Homo sapiens: one gene and its partner. The protein of the gene in region 1 interacts with the protein of each later gene in a pairwise test. Each region holds a gene or a part of one and is shown in the gene's direction. Other genes may lie near its edges.

What was found.
Region 2: the proteins of S100G (region 1) and NSMF interact in binary tests that used the Homo sapiens proteins (3 or more experiments, as listed by UniProt).

The regions. Positions count from the first base shown.
Region 1 is NC_000023.11:16,645,482-16,653,811, forward strand, and holds the start of S100G (protein S100-G), read left to right. Parts: upstream 1-4,676; 5' UTR 4,677-4,722; intron 4,723-5,421; exon of another isoform or gene 5,422-5,517; 5' UTR 5,518-5,525; coding exon 5,526-5,660; intron 5,661-7,724; coding exon of another isoform or gene 7,725-7,908; intron 7,909-8,330.
Region 2 is NC_000009.12:137,449,335-137,456,950, reverse strand, and holds part of NSMF (NMDA receptor synaptonuclear signaling and neuronal migration factor), read left to right. Parts: intron 1-464; coding exon 465-540; intron 541-1,316; coding exon 1,317-1,322; intron 1,323-1,643; coding exon 1,644-1,712; intron 1,713-1,721; exon of another isoform or gene 1,722-1,864; coding exon of another isoform or gene 1,865-2,205; intron 2,206-2,507; coding exon 2,508-2,560; intron 2,561-3,130; coding exon 3,131-3,220; intron 3,221-3,770; coding exon 3,771-3,895; intron 3,896-4,131; coding exon 4,132-4,215; intron 4,216-4,364; coding exon 4,365-4,398; intron 4,399-4,515; coding exon 4,516-4,586; intron 4,587-6,695; coding exon 6,696-6,775; intron 6,776-6,864; exon of another isoform or gene 6,865-6,925; coding exon 6,926-7,028; intron 7,029-7,276; coding exon 7,277-7,352; intron 7,353-7,459; coding exon 7,460-7,557; 3' UTR 7,558-7,616. UniProt on the Homo sapiens protein: Couples NMDA-sensitive glutamate receptor signaling to the nucleus and triggers long-lasting changes in the cytoarchitecture of dendrites and spine synapse processes. Part of the cAMP response element-binding protein (CREB) shut-off signaling pathway.

The DNA.
Region 1 (8,330 bases):
GTCCTGCCTGACAGAGTCCTGCCTCTAACCTGAAGCAGTTTATTTCCCATTTCTGGCTTCCAACCTGCGCTGCTGTGTCACCAAGTAGTGTGAGAATGGAATCTACAATGAGGAAATCAATGAGCAGTCCCATAAGTACGTATGTATTTTTCCAGTCTTTTAAACTTGTTTTTTTCCCCACCAGTAAAAGAAAGCTGCTATGGTTTGAATGCATTCCCCAAAGTTGATGTGTTGCAAGCTTAATCCTCAGTGCAACAGTGTTGAGAGGTGGAATCTTTAAGAAGCAATTAAGTTATAAGGGCTCTGCCCCCATGAATGGATTAATGCCATTATCATTGGAATGGGTTAGTTATCATGGGAATGGGTTCCTGGTAAAAGGATGAGTTCAGTCCCCTTCCCTCTCTCTCACCCATGTGATGCCTTCTACCACATGATGACACAGCAAGAAGGCCCTCACCAGATGCCAGCACCTTGATCTGGGACTTCCCAGCCACCCTCCAGAACTGTGAGGAAATAAATTTCTCTTCTTTATAAATTAGCCAGTCTCAGGTACTCTGTTATAGCAGTGCAAAACAGACAAAGGCCTATATCATTTTCATCAGGAAAAGAACTTTCTTACACCTCAGAAAAAGAACCTTCTTATACCTCCAGATGTAAACCTAACACTTAAGTGTGATACTACCTGTGGTCCTAATGTTAACATACAATGGTTGTCCTCAGAGAAGCCCTTCTCCTGGGAGGGGCATGTGGCACGGTGGTTGAGGGTGCAGGCTGGGCCTGAACTTGAATCCCAGCTCTACTGCTGACCAGCAGTGTGACCCTGAGCAGGTCCTTGGATGTCTCTACAGACTGGGGGGACCAACAGCATCCACTTCATAAAGTTGCAGCAAGGATTTAAGGAGGCCGTGGGAGTTGGGTGCCTAGGTCAGCACACTGCCCATAGTAAAGATACGCACTCAAGAAGCACAGGCTATGGTCAGGAGACCTCTGGGAACTCAACTGCTGAAGGTGAGCACAGGCTGACCCAAAAGACAGTGAGCCTCACAGCCCAGGCAAAGGTTGGAAGTGAACTTTGTCTGAAGGTCCAGGGAAGGTAGACACCAGGTCAGGTGACAAGCAAGCTATACTTTCTGGGAAAGCAGCATTTGAGTATTCAAGGTCTCTTTTAAACTTCAGGATCAAAGATAACAAGAACCCATGGATAGCATTTCACACCCATTTTGTTTTGCAGGGACCAGGTACTAACACTGTACCCTCTTCCTGAAGGTGCTTTTCAAGACATTGCATGCTGTCACCTTCAAGCAGAATAACCCACAGAAGCCTGTGGTGCCCAGAGCTCTTAAAATATGTTACTCTTGGCTTTCCTAGGAAAAATTAAGCCTGTCCAAAGATCAAACAATTGAACAGTGAGGTGATAAATAACCTTTGCCTCTCCATTTTCCCATTACCACCCTTGTGCCTGTCGTTTCCCCCCTTCTCTGGTTTCAAAACGCACTCTTGTGAACACACCCTGTAATTATCACTTGTCTCCATATATTTTTAGTTAATGTTTCACAAGAGTATCTATTAGTGGATTTTTCATGCTTCCAAGTGCAAGTTTACCCTCATGCTTTTAAGTCTATGGGTAAAGAGAAAAATAAGAGACAAGAGATGTGACTGGTAGAAGTGAGCAAGTAAAAACTTAAGAAGCCGCACAGGCTGTTTTTCAAGTTCAAGTTTTGCTAGCATTCGCTACAAGTATAAATTCTGACAATAGGCAGCATTGGGCCCATTCTTTTTTTTTTTTTTTTTTTTTTTTTTTTTGAGACAAAGTTTCGCTCTTATTGCCCAGGCTGGAGTGTAATGGCAGGATCTCAGCTCAACGCAACTTCCACCTCCCGGGTTCAAGCAATTCTCCTGCCTCAGTTTCCCGAGTAGCTGGAATTACAAACATGCACCACCACGCCTGGCTAATTTTTGTATTTTTAGTAGAGATGAGGTTTCTCCATGTTGGTCAGGCTGGTCTCGAACTCCTGACCTCAGGTGATCCGCCCACCTCGGCCTCCCAAAGTGCTGGGATTATAGGCGTGAACCACCGTGCCCGGCCGCATTGGGCTGATTCTAATCAGAAGTTGTCCCTTGAAAGAAGAGATTTGTAGCCTAGAAGACTATTAACCAATACTGCTCCAAAAGTTTTTCTTAGAGATAATTTTTATATATACATACACACGTCATATGTAATATATGGGTGTATTATATAGAACATGTTATCTTTCATCCTATATCGTTACTAAGATGACATATAGTTATTAAAATCATTTCTTCAGATGCAAAAAATAGGCCAGGTGCAGTGGCTCACGCCTGTAATCCCAGCAGTTTGGGAGACTGAGGCGGGCAGATCATTTGAGCCCAGGAGTTGGAGACCATCCTGGGCAACATGGCAAAACCCATGTTGTATTTTTCTACAAGAAATACACAAAATATATATATATGTATCCGGGCATGGTGGCACATGCCTGTAGTCCCAGCTACTCGGGAGGCTGAGGTAGGAGGATCACCTGAGCCCATGGAGGTTGAGGCTGCAGTGAGCTGTGTTCACGCCACTGCACTCCAACCTGAGTGACACAGTGAAGTGGCTTCAAAAAAATAAACAAAAAAACCAGATGCAAAACATAATAAACACCCCATTTGATTTTAGCTCACTAGTGGTAATTTGAGAGAAAAGATGATTTAAGATGCTATTCAACAATTGGAGAGATTTGACGTGGGCTATGATAATGGCATTGTGGTTACATAGGAGAATGTCTTTGTCCTTAGGAGACAGATGCTGAGGTGCTCAGGGGGGAAGCATCTGGATGTTTGTAATTGATTCTCAAATGACTCAGGGGTGGAGGAAAGTATCTGTCCAGAGAAAGAGAAAGCAAATGTGGAGATGTTCGCAATTAGTGAATCTAGTCGAAAGGCAGACTGGTGTTCATTGCACTATTCTTGCCACTTTTCTGTAGATCTGAAATATTTTTTAAAAGATGTTTAAAAAAAGATAGTTCTTGTTATGATTAAGCACAAACGCCTACTTCCTCCCAGGAAAACAGAACATATGTGTAAAAACACTGGCAATTTTCTAAAATCTTGATTAAAATGCATTGCCAAAATCAGAATATTTTTGTGTAAAATCTTATAACTAAAAATAAAATGCCTGTCTTTACTCCAACCAGTGAGTTAATACATATTCTATATTGGTGCATAGCAAAGTCAAAGAATCCATAATAAAAACAAGAAGAATATATACAAGACAGCAAAGACACATGGAATGATAAATGCTCAAGACTGGCGGGAAGCTTTTAAGGAATTCTATTAGATTTCCCATTTGTTCTCCAATGTAAATAAGGCCCTAGAATTTTAGAGCTGAGAAACATCAGGGAGAAATACAGTCCCAATAGTCCAGTCCTCAGTTTGTAGGTGATATAAGGCAGAGTCAGGGAAAATTCTATAAGTGTGGAAGTGTACAAGTGTTTCAAAGCTGTAAAGTGCTCTTAAAATCCACCTGGAACCCCTTCCTGTGAGTTACAATCAGCATTAGATCAATGTCCCTTGGAAATGTCCTACTTATTTCATGGAACTCTTTCCAGTAGAAATCAATCTCCTTGGCAATTTTAAATCATGGCAGTTACAAAAAGTTTGAAGTATTTCCAACTGAACAAGAGTAAGTCGAGTGTTCTCACAAGTTTTTCGAATGATCACGAAATATATTTGGTAAGGAAAAGGATAATGAGAAATAAAAAGCAGACACAGGACCAACAAATAATGAAAGAGCTGAAAAAATGACCATGTTACTCAATATTGATTTGCCAAATAAAACCACAAATTACTGAGTATCTTCTTTCCACTTCTTAAACCTGCTTCTGAAGCAATACTTCCATTCATTCATTCATGTATTCAAATATTTAAGCTGCTAATATGTAAAGACATCAGAAGGACTTCAATGGCCATACCGTAATTTTTTAAACTATGTAATATTGTCCTTCTATGACAGCATTTTTTCTTTTTTACAGACAGGATCTCACTCTGTCACCCAGGCTGGAGTGCAGTGGCACAATCATGGCTCACTGTTGCCTCAACCTCCCAGGCTTAAGGAATCCTCCCACCTCAGCCTCTACAGTAGCTGGGACTACAGGCATGTACCATCACACCTGGCTGATTTTTTAAATTTTTCAGTAGAAATGTCTTGCTGTGTTGACCAGGCTGGTATCAAACTCCTCACCTCAAGCAATCCTCCTGCCTCGGCCTCCCAAAGTGCTGGGATTACAGGCATGAGCTACCGCACAGGGCAGCATTTATTTTTTCTGGATATGAAGAAAGTTATTTTTTAAAGCCTAAATATGCAACTAAATTGAAAAGAATCCTCTATATCTAAGCTTTATGAAATGTGAACTGTGAGCAAATATAATTCTACATTGGAGGGAAAATATAATCTCAGGGGGAAAAAAATCCAAGCTTACGACTCTGAACCATGAAGCAACTGTCGAGATGGACCTTTACTGGATCTTGCCCTTAATTATGGGGTTCATGCAGTCTTAAGCCTGAGTTTCAAAAACCATTAATAATTACCCTTAAATGGCCAACAAAAGGAAATTTTCATAATCAGGGTGGCGTGCCCGTAAAGACTATAAAAGTGTCATGATTCTGCTCAGCTCTTCAAACTCCTCTTTGATTCTTCTAGCTGTTTCACTATTGGGCAACCAGGTTAGTGTGATTTTGGTACTACCTAGAGCTCCTTCTGTTTGCATTAATACTCTGCTTCCTTTTAGAATGGTGTGAAAGATAATGGTCTGGAGAGAAGGTGAGTTTATGCCATCTGGAGATATTCCCTGTAACTTAGAAGCTAGAAGCTGTGGTCAAGTATTCTTCAAGACCACAGCCTGCAGAGTGCAGATCAGGTACATAAAAAGTGTAGAATGTCATTAATTACTAATAAAAATGTTTGGCTCCAGGGACCATCTCCTAACAGATGTACTCTAAGAACAGACATTTAACATACTATCTAAGATGTCTTTTTTTTTTTTTTTTTTTTTTTGCAGCGGAGGCTCGCTCTGTCACCCAGGCTGGAGTGCAGTGGCATCGCACTCACTGCAACCTCCGCCTCCCGGGTTCAAGCGATTCTCCTGCCTCGGTCTTCCAAGTAGATGGGACTATAGGCACGCACCACCACGCCTGGCTAATTTTTGTATAGAGACAGGGTCTCACCATGTTGGCCAGGCTTCCATGGTCTCGAACTCCTGACTTCAAGTGATCCACCCTCCTTGGCCTCCCAAAGTGCTGGGATTACAGGCATGAGCTACCGTGCCTGGCCTAAGATGCTTATTTTTTAAACATGTTAGTAGTTACTGGTGCCATTCCGACCCCGACATTCTCTTTTCCTTATTCTTCCCCATTTATGCCAAGGAAATGGCCCAATGGCACTAAAATCCTGCAGACAACCCTCAGCACAAAACTGTACTTCAGCTTTTTGGTAAGTTTATTTTCTTCCCAATTTATAAGACACCAGAATGAGTACTAAAAAGTCTCCTGAGGAACTGAAGAGGATTTTTGAAAAATATGCAGCCAAAGAAGGTGATCCAGACCAGTTGTCAAAGGATGAACTGAAGCTATTGATTCAGGCTGAATTCCCCAGTTTACTCAAAGTAAGTGGCCATCCGCAGAGCCCACTTAATGGGACTGATGGTGGGAGGGGAGGGAGGGAGGGGAGAGGACTCCGGTAGAGCCTTATAGGGACCGTCGCTTGAGGGAGGACACATGCAGGTGGGGTTTCTTCCCCTTAAGTCAGGCCACATTTCAGAAGGCAAGCTCTCAGAAAACAAGGGCCAAGCCTTCTATCCCTCCTGCAGCCTCAGCACAGGACTCTGCAGGACTAGCCATAATAAATGGAAGCAATGCCAAGTTATGCCTGGAAGACCCACAAGTCACCAAGCAAACCCAATAAGGCCTTCAGCATGGATTCAGTACTTCTGTGCCAGGCTTTAGGAAAACAAAGAGGACTGCAAAATAGTGTTAGCTGGCCTTGGACAGGCTTCATTTGTGTATGTAAAATCCCTCAACAAGACCAACACTTACTTAGCAGTCTGTTAGGAAAACCCACTGACAAATTGCCTTGTCAGCACTCATTTATATTTCAAAAGCATTTACATTTGTGTTCATCACTTAAATTTGTGTTAATGAGGCAACCGTGCATTTCTAAACAACTTTCAAGAAAGGACTAAATTTCCTGGGCCATAAAGTTTCACATCAAAATCACCCCAGAGTTGTCAAAATCAAAATGCATTCAAGGCAACAGAGTACAGAGAAGAGCTGATCGTCCTCACTCCAATATACAGTACTGTCTTTCCTTTTGCTAAAGAAAAAGCTGAGTCAGGACACTTGCCAAGGATGGTAAGGCAACTTACTCCAGGAGGGCCATGGCGACCCATACAGGGACCACTGAAACGTGTTCTTGCCATGGGGAGAGAGATTGGGCTCAACTCCAGAAAGGATAAGTGGGGGTTTATGACCATAGAGCAGGATGGGGGGGGCCAGTGGATGGAAAATTACCAAGGAAATATCCAGGATAAGGAGCTTCTGGCTAAATTGCCTTGATAGGATTCTAGCTGAAGGCAGGCCAGGTGATCAAATATTAAGGGTAGTCAGATACAAGGACAGAGAGGGAAGCCCAAGGTCAGGCCTAGTCGAGCAGAGGACTCAAAGGAGAGAGTCATTGTCATTTTGCAATTAAAAACCATCTTCACAACAGAAGTGACTATGGAATTGTTTTGTATGACTCAGTCACTATTTAGCTCTAACTTCAGGAAAGAACATTTCTTCAAATATTTTAACCAGCTCTCCAGATTTTAACCAGAAATGTCCCTTCTGCCAATATGACAATTGGAAAGACTTCTGTTTTTAATACTAAAAAAGAAAAAAGCTGAATTCAATGACCCCAGAATCTGATATTTTCTCATTTTCTCATAGTTGAAATATAGAAGAACTTGTAAAAACACTTAAAGTCACTAGCAGAAAAAGGGACTTTTTAATTAAACAGCAAAACAAGTTAGTGAAAAAATTTAAAATTTTAAAAGACCCTTTATTTTTTCTAAAAGGAAGAAAAATAATCATCTAACAGGAAAGCCTAGGCCATGTACTCAAACAAGTTGTTTCAAAAGGTAACACGGGTAACTTTTTCTATATTTTATGTCTTTCCTACAAAAAGTACGTAAGACATAATCTGGAACGAGGTAGGAAGACTAATGGTAAGTTCTGAAAGTCTACTTAACATGTACCTGATTATATTCCCATAAGGTTTCCATTACTAAGGTTTTCCACCATACTCTGTTTACATATATCATCACCATGCATGGTTTAGAATCTAGTAAAGGCTTCAGGAAAACAGTGTTTCATATTCATAAATCAAAGGCTGAATAAGTAACTTACAGTTTGGTCTTGTAATTAAAGCAAAGTGCTAAGTGTTTTTGTAGGAATCTTAGGGGTTAAAATATATCTTCCATAGAGATGTGCTGCACAAAATTGTGAATCTACTTAGCACTACTGAACTGTATGCTTAAAAATGATTAAGAGCGTAAATTCAATGTTATGTGTTTTTTACCACAATTTATATATACATATATATATATAATATAGTCTAATTTGAAACTGACAAACTGAACTGTTATTTCAATCGGTTTTCTAAGTAGTATTTTGCACAGATAGACTCCTACCTGAAAGTCCAAGTAGTAATGGCTTTAAGATTAGAGTTTTATGGTAGAGACAAAAATTAACTCCACTTAAGACACTGCAGGAAGTCCAGTAGTCAAAAAGCCTGCACACGATCTCACACGACATCTCAAGCAGTGGTTCTCCAAGTGTGGTCCCAGAGCAGCAGCATTGGCACCACCTGGGAAGCTGTTGAAAATATAGATTCTCCAGCTTGAACAACACAGCAAGACCTTGTCTCTATTAAAACTTTTAAAAAATTAGCCAGGTGTGGTGGCACACGCCTTTAGTCCCAGCTACTCGGGAGGCTGAGGCAGGAGGATCATTTGAGCCCAGGAGGTGGAAGCTGCAGTGGGCTGTGATCATGCCACTGCACTCCAGCCTGGGTGACAGAGCAAGACCTTGTGTACAGATTCTCGGGCCCCACCCCAGGCCTAGTGAATCAGAAACTCTGGAGGTGGGGCTGGCAGTCTGTATTTACTAAGGTCAGCAAGCCTATCGTGTGATTCTGATGCATGCTAAAGCATGGGAACCATTGAGCCAAAGTCATTTTGCATAGCTCAACGTTTGGGAAAAACTGGGCGGTGGTTAGTTAAGGGGTTGAGCTCTGG
Region 2 (7,616 bases), on another chromosome or scaffold:
ACACTTGGGCATCAGGGAAAGGCTGTGGGGGCCCTCGGAAGGGGACAGCCCTCAGCAAGGTGGTCTCTAGCCTCGGTGAGGGCCTCCAGCTAGAGCATGGGGGCTGCAGAGAAGGCCTCAGAGCCTCTTCTGCCCAAGGGAAACAGACGCATTGTTTTCCTGGGCCTCCTGGAGACAGACTGTGCTTTCAAAGGAATGTTTCTCAAACTTTGGGTGGCCAAAGGGAAAGTTAAGCCAAAAAAATCAAAGCGTCAAGTTACCAAGAGCGTGGTCTTGGTGAGTGAGCAGCAGACATTCGAGCACTGCCCTCTGTGCCCGTGTGGGGATGCCACCCTCCCCCCACCCGCCCTGGCTGCCAGCTTCTGCTGACCCCTGGACCCAGAAGCATCTGCTTCCCAACAGGGAGGGAGAGGCTTCAGGAACCCCTACTTCACCCAGCCACCGCTCCTTTTTGTCTCTCTTAGACGACATCCCTATTCGTACCTGGTTCCCCAAGGAAAATCTTTTCAGCTTCCAGACAGCAACCACAACTATGCAAGCGTGAGTCTTGTGCCCACGACTTGGGGTCAGGGTTGGGTGGTCTCTTTCTGCTGCTCAGGAAACAGCACTTTTTCCCAGTCTCTGGGCCTACCAGGGGGGCTGCTTCTGAACAGACCCACGTGCCTATGCTGTGCCAGGCCTGCCAGGGAGGCCAGGGCTGACTGCTCTTCCCCTCCCATGGCTGGTGCCCAGCCCCCCCCCCCACACACACACAGTCAGGGGACCTGGCCCAGGGCTGCAGCTGATGAGCTCTCAGTGGGGTGTGGGGTGTGGCAGGTTCTCCTGCTCCTATCCACTCTCCTCAGCCTGTGTCTGCCCTCCCTCAAACCCCAAATAGAAGCCTACTTCTGTTTCATACGTGCCATAGGTCATCACAGTTTCAGGGTCCCCGCAGGGACCTGCTCCTCTCTGTCTTGACATACATTTGGCTTTTCTGTTCTGGGATTCCTTCCAGGGAAGTTCCCTTTGCTGCATTGGTCCCCACACCAAAGAAGTGTCCTGCCCGGGGGAGTCCACCCCACACCCAGCCTCAGGCTGCCTGGTCTCAGCAACCAGTCCTTGTGGCATGGGCTGCAGTGACATCAGCTTCCGTTGCCCATTCAGGGCTGGCCAGCAGTGTAGCCAGCATCCTGCTGGTGGCTGGGTTACCTGTGAGGGACCTATTGGGTCAGTGACAAGAAGGGAACTGTAGGGACCGGGTGGGGGCTGAGGGGAGGCCCGGGGTTGAGCTCACTGTGTCTTCTCTCTCACGCCATCCCTTCTGGCCCTGGCTTCAGCATCTCGTAAGTACCTGTATGACTTGGTGCCTAAGGGCACAGCTGTTGTCCCTGGGGAGACCCTCCCACCCCAAATAGGTTTGGGCAGGCCAGGGACCTGGGTCTTGAGGGAGTGCCGCTCTCTGCGGGCCTGGCTCCCAGCGGGCACCGAGGTCGCAGCAGGGCCTGCTGGGAGCTGGGCCTCGACAGGTGAGGCAGGCTGGGACTCCTCTGCCGGGCCCCGTGCCCCAGACGCCCTGCTGGGCCCTCTGCTCGCACCACTGTCCCGACGTCTGTGTCCCTCCTGCCTCCGGCCAAGGGCAGTGCTGACTCGCGGTGGTTTCCCAGGGTGTTCAGGGGCTACGCGGAGAGGAAGCGCCGGAAACGGGAGAATGATTCCGCGTCTGTAATCCAGAGGTAGGGCCTGCCAGCCACTCGCCACCAGGGTCCATCTCTGGTCTGTGCTGGCCTGGCCTGGGCCCCCTCGGCCCTGGCAGACCTGATGGGGGAAGGGTGGTGGCGACCACTGGCCTGGCCCTGCTCTGGGGACGTGGCAGGCAGGAGAGGCCATGTGGCCCGGGCTGCAGGAAAGCATCTCACCCTCAGTCCTGCACTCCGAGGGCACGTGTCTCTGTCTGGGCTGGGGCCAGCAGCAAGGCCCCCCTCCCCCACTCCAATCACACAGATGTGTCTGGGAAGCTTTTTTGCCCGTTTTGGATGTTGGGCCTTGGCAGGGTCCAAAGTTTGGTGGAGGAGAGGACCTGCCCCTGAGGTGGCTCAAGGACACAGAGCAGGAGAGGGGGCTCCTGCAGGCCCCCAGCCCGCCATGGGGTGGTGCAGACAGGAGCCCCGCTCTGCTGCAGCGCAGGCAGGCTGGATCCTCTGCCACATGGGCGTGGAGGCTCAGGGCGTAAGTCCCGGGCGAGGACGGAAGGTCAGAGCCTGGGAATGCAGCTCGGGAGGAGACTTGATCCAGAGCGCCAGGCACTGCACCTTTGTTCTGGAGTTGAAGGGGAGCCCTGGAAGGCTGTCGCGGGAAGAGCACTGGGTGGGATTTGCCTTTGGGTGGGAGGTGGTGCCAGGAGCCAGGGAGAGCACTGGCTTCCCACACCGAAGGGGTGAGAGTAGAGCCATGACCCGACGGGGGCTAGGTGGGCAGGGGCTGCCGTCACCCTCTCACGGCCCTCTTCAGCCCCTGGCTTCCTCCCCCAGGAACTTCCGCAAACACCTGCGCATGGTCGGCAGCCGGAGGGTGAAGGCCCAGAGTAAGACCCCGTGCGGCGGGGGTGGGGGGGCGGCGTTGCGCTTGGCTGGTTGGGGCTTTGCTTGCTGCTAGCTGCGATAAGAACGACCCCCGCCCCAACCCCAATCGGGCCCTGCCTCAGGCTCCTCCCCTTCCAGCCACTTCCCCAGCCCGGCCCAGGCTCCTCCCCTCCCAGCCACGCCCCCAGCCCGGCCCAGGCTCCTCCCCTCCCAGCCACGCCCCCAGCCCGGCCCAGGCTCCTCCCCTCCCAGCCACGCCCCCAGCCCGGCCCAGGCTCCTCCCCTCCCAGCCACGCCCCCAGCCCGGCCCAGGCTCCTCCCCTCCCAGCCACGCCCCCAGCCCGGCCCAGGCTCCTCCCTTCCCAGACTCCGCCTCTGGCCCTGCCCCAGTGTTCTCAGATCCTGCCCCTGAACCAACCGAGCCTCTGGTCCGTGTCTGCTTCATGTGCCTTAGACCCCACCCACATTAGCTTCCTCCTCTGCCCAGGGCCCCTGTGGTCCCCTCGCCTGGGGTCTGAGACTCCCGAGGCCCCGCCCCACCCGCTCGCTAATGCGGGTTTTGCTCTCTGCAGCGTTCGCTGAGCGGCGCGAGCGGAGCTTCAGCCGGTCCTGGAGCGACCCCACCCCCATGAAAGCCGACACTTCCCACGACTCCCGAGACAGTAGGTGCCCCGCACAGGCCCGCCCACCTTCCCCAGAGCCTCCCCTAGACCCCAGACCCCTGCTGGGGGTCCCCTGCCAGGGCCGCTGGGCTGCGCTTTTGCACTCCTGAATCTTGGTTTACCTGTTTGTGAGATGGGGACGCCCTCAGCATCTCCGATCGCAAAGGCGGGGCTAACAACGGCCGCGGCAGTGCTGGCCGGGGGCGCCTGTAGGGCCGTGCCCACCGCCACTCGCAAGAGGCCCTCAGGGGCAGGGGGCTGCGGTGCCCGCCCCCACTCCCTCCCAGGCGCCCGGCGGACTTGGCTGGAGCTGATGCCTGCACGCGCCTTCCACCGGCCTCGCACCAGGGTCTCCCTTCCCACATCAGGCCGCTGCCCAGTGGTGTCCACAGGCCTGTCCTGCCGGGCTGGCGGCGACCTCTGTATGGTCCTCCCACTTGCTTGGAGGACCCTCCGGGATGGGGCTTTCGGGCCCTGTGGGCCTTGGGGCCATGGCCAGGATAGGAGGTGCTGCCGGGCCTGCTGTCCTGGTGACCCTCTTGCTTCCCAGGCAGTGACCTGCAGAGCTCCCACTGCACGCTGGACGAGGCCTTCGAGGACCTGGACTGGGACACTGAGAAGGGCCTGGAGGCTGTGGCCTGCGACACCGAAGGCTTCGTGCCACCAAAGGTCATGGTGAGGCCCAGCCCGGGCAGTGCTCCTCTACACCCCGAGCAGGACTCCGCCCCAACCCGAGTCCAGCCAGCTCTGCCTGGGACCACGCAGCCTTCTCCAGCTGCCTGGGGGAGGGTGTCTCACAGGGCTATACCCTTGGGCTGCCTGGCAGCCAGAAGGTAGCCTCATGGGGGCTCCCACAGCCCCTTGGCTTTTGGATGGGCCTGGGGCCCCTGAGCAGCTCTTTGTCTCCGCAGCTCATTTCCTCCAAGGTGCCCAAGGCTGAGTACATCCCCACTATCATCCGCCGGGATGACCCCTCCATCATCCCCATCCTCTACGTGAGTCCCGCCCCGGGCCTGCCCCCAACAGATGCCCTCTTGCGGCCCCACCCTGGGCCAGCGCCGGCACCCCAGGTCCCCAGGGTGCTGTGGCGCTGCTGGCTCTGACGCAGCCTTGATGTGGCCTTGTGGCCTGTGTCTGTCCCCAGGACCATGAGCACGCAACCTTCGAGGACATCCTTGGTATGTGCCTCATTGGCCTTCTCTCTGCTGGTTCCAGGCCTGGGAGGGGCAGACACAGGTGGGGGTGCCCCTGGGGCTGGGGTGGGGGCCGCAGCACTCACACCCGCTCTCCCACAGAGGAGATAGAGAGGAAGCTGAACGTCTACCACAAGGGAGCCAAGATCTGGAAAATGCTGATTTTCTGCCAGGTGGGGCTCAGTGCTCGTCTCCTGACCAGGAGAAGAATCGTGGTGGGGCAGGGGAAGACCAAGGGGAAGAAGTCAAGTTGGGGGAGACCAAGGGGAAGAGGTTGGGGTGGGGAGACCAAGGGGAAGAGGTGTTTGTGGGGGAGACCAAGGGGAAGAGGCGTGGGGGTGGAGACCAAGGGGAAGAGGTGTGGCTGGGGGAGACCAAGGGGAAGAGGCTGGGGTGGGAAGACCAAGGGGAAGAGGTGTTTGAGGGGGAGACCAAGGGGAAGAGGTGTGGCTGGGGGAGACCAAGGGGAAGAGGCTGGGGTTGGGGAAGACCAAGGAGAAGAGGCGTAGATGTTGAGGGGGAAAGATCAAGGAGAAGAGGCGTGTGGCGGGGGGAAACGAAGGGGAAGAGGCGTGTGGCTGGGGGAGACCAAGGGGAAGAGGTGTGGCTGGGGGAGACCAAGGGGAAGAGGCTGGGGTTGGGGAAGACCAAGGAGAAGAGGTGTAGACATTGAGGGGGAAAGATCAAGGAGAAGAGGCGTGTGGCGGGGGGGAAATGAAGGGGAAGGGGCGTGTGGCTGGGGGAGACCAAGGGGAAGAGGTGTTTGGGGGGTAGATCAAGGAGAAGAGACGTGGCGGGGGAAGACCAAGGGGAAGAGGCGTGTGGCGGGGGAGATCAAGGGGAAGAGACGTGGCGGGGGAGATCAAGGGGAAGAGACGTGGCGGGGGAGATCAAGGGGAAGAGACGAGGGGCAGGGGAAGATCAAGGGGAAGAGGCGTGTGGAGGGGGAGATCAAGGGGAAGAGGCATGGTGGGGAGATCAAGGGGAAGAGGCGTGTGGCCAAGGAAGACCAAGGGGAAGAGACGTGGCGGGGGAGACCAAGGGGAAGAGGCGTGTGGTGGGGAAGACCAAGGGGAAGAGGCGTGGAGGGCAGAACAAGGGGAAGAGGCGTGTGGCGCGGGAGATCAAGGGGAAGAGACGTGGCGGGGGAGATCAAGGGGAAGAGACGTGGCGGGGGAGATCAAGGGGAAGAGACGAGGGGCAGGGGAAGATCAAGGGGAAGAGGCGTGTGGAGGGGGAGATCAAGGGGAAGAGGCATGGTGGGGAGATCAAGGGGAAGAGGCGTGTGGCCAAGGAAGACCAAGGGGAAGAGACGTGGCGGGGGAGACCAAGGGGAAGAGGCGTGTGGTGGGGAAGACCAAGGGGAAGAGGCGTGGAGGGCAGAACAAGGGGAAGAGGCGTGTGGCGCGGGAGATCAAGGGGAAGAGACGTGTGGCAGGGGAAGATCAAGGGGAAGAGGCGTGTGGAGGGGGAGATCAAGGGGAAGAGACGTGGAGGGGAGATCAAGGGGAAGAGACGTGGTGGGGGAGATCAAGGGGAAGAGACGTGGCAGGGGAGATCAAGGGGAAGAGACGAGGGGCAGGGGAAGATCAAGGGGAAGAGGCGTGTGGAGGGGGAGATCAAGGGGAAGAGGCGTGGGGGGGAGATCAAGGGGAAGAGGTGTGGGGGGGAGATCAAAAGGAAGAGGCGTGGCGGGCAGGTCAAGGGGAAGAGGCATTGGGGGGAGATCAAGGAGAAGAGCGTGTGGTGGGGGAGATCAAGGGGAAGAGGCATTGGGGGGAATTAAGAGGAAGAGGCGAGGGGGGGAGATCAAGAGGAAGAGGCGGGGGAAGATCAAGGGGAAGAGGCGTGTGGTGGGGGAAATCAAAGGGAAGAGGCGTGTGGTGGGGGAGATCAAAGGGAAGAGGCGTGTGGTGGGGGAGATCAAAGGGAAGAGGCGTGTGGTGGGGGAGATCAAGGGGAAGAGGCGTGTGGTGGGGGAGATCAAAGGGAAGAGGTGTGTGGTGGGGGAGATCAAAGGGAAGAGGCGTGTGGTGGGGGAGATCAAAGGGAAGAGGCATGTGGTGGGGGAGATCAAGGGGAAGAGGCGTGGGGGGGAGATCAAAGGGAAGAGGCGTGTGGTGGGGGAGATCAAGGGAAAGACGTGTGGTGGGGGAGATCAAGGGGAAGAAGCGTGGCCGGGGGATGAAGACCAAAACTACCTCCCACGCATGTGCGTGGGTGCATGTGTGTCGGAGAGGGGGAGGAAGGAGGAGCAGATGCCTGACCACAGCTTCTTACAGGGAGGTCCTGGACACCTCTATCTCCTCAAGAACAAGGTGGCCACCTTTGCCAAAGTGGAGAAGGAAGAGGACATGATTCAGTGAGAAGCCGGGTGCCCTGGGCGCGGGGAGGGCTGGAGGCAGAGTCCAGGCCCTGGCATGTCCCTCCCCCACAGCCCCTCCTCCACGGTCCGCTCTGTGGAGTGGGGTGCCTGTCCCCTGCCACTGGGTGACCCACCCCTCTCCACCAGCTTCTGGAAGCGGCTGAGCCGCCTGATGAGCAAAGTGAACCCAGAGCCGAACGTCATCCACATCATGGGCTGCTACATTCTGGGGAACCCCAATGGAGAGAAGGTACAGTGACCCCCAAGCCCCACCCCAGACCTCTGGAAACCCCCGACGTGGACAGACAGGGCAGAGCCTTCCATGTTTCCTGGCATTTTTTTTCCTTCCCCCGGGCATTCCCCTAGAAATCCTTTATGCCTGAGCCCAGCCAGGTTTGGGGGGTCTGAAAAAAGAGGGTGGGCCCTGCTCCCCATCTCCTCCCCGCTCCTCCTTCCCCATCTCTCTGCCTCGGACTCATGGCACCCCGCTTCCTCCAGCTGTTCCAGAACCTCAGGACCCTCATGACTCCTTATAGGGTCACCTTCGAGTCACCCCTGGAGCTCTCAGCCCAAGGTGAGTTACCCAGGCTGGGCCGAAGCTCTGCAGCCACTGCGGGGCCACGGTGGGGTGGGATCCCCAGGGCCGGCCAGGCCTGAGCCTCCTGCCCCCGCTCCGCCCAGGGAAGCAGATGATCGAGACGTACTTTGACTTCCGGTTGTATCGCCTGTGGAAGAGCCGCCAGCACTCGAAGCTGCTGGACTTTGACGACGTCCTGTGAGGGGCAGAGGCCTCCGCCCAGTCACCATCAGGCCACTCCCTCTGCACCGGGACCTGGGG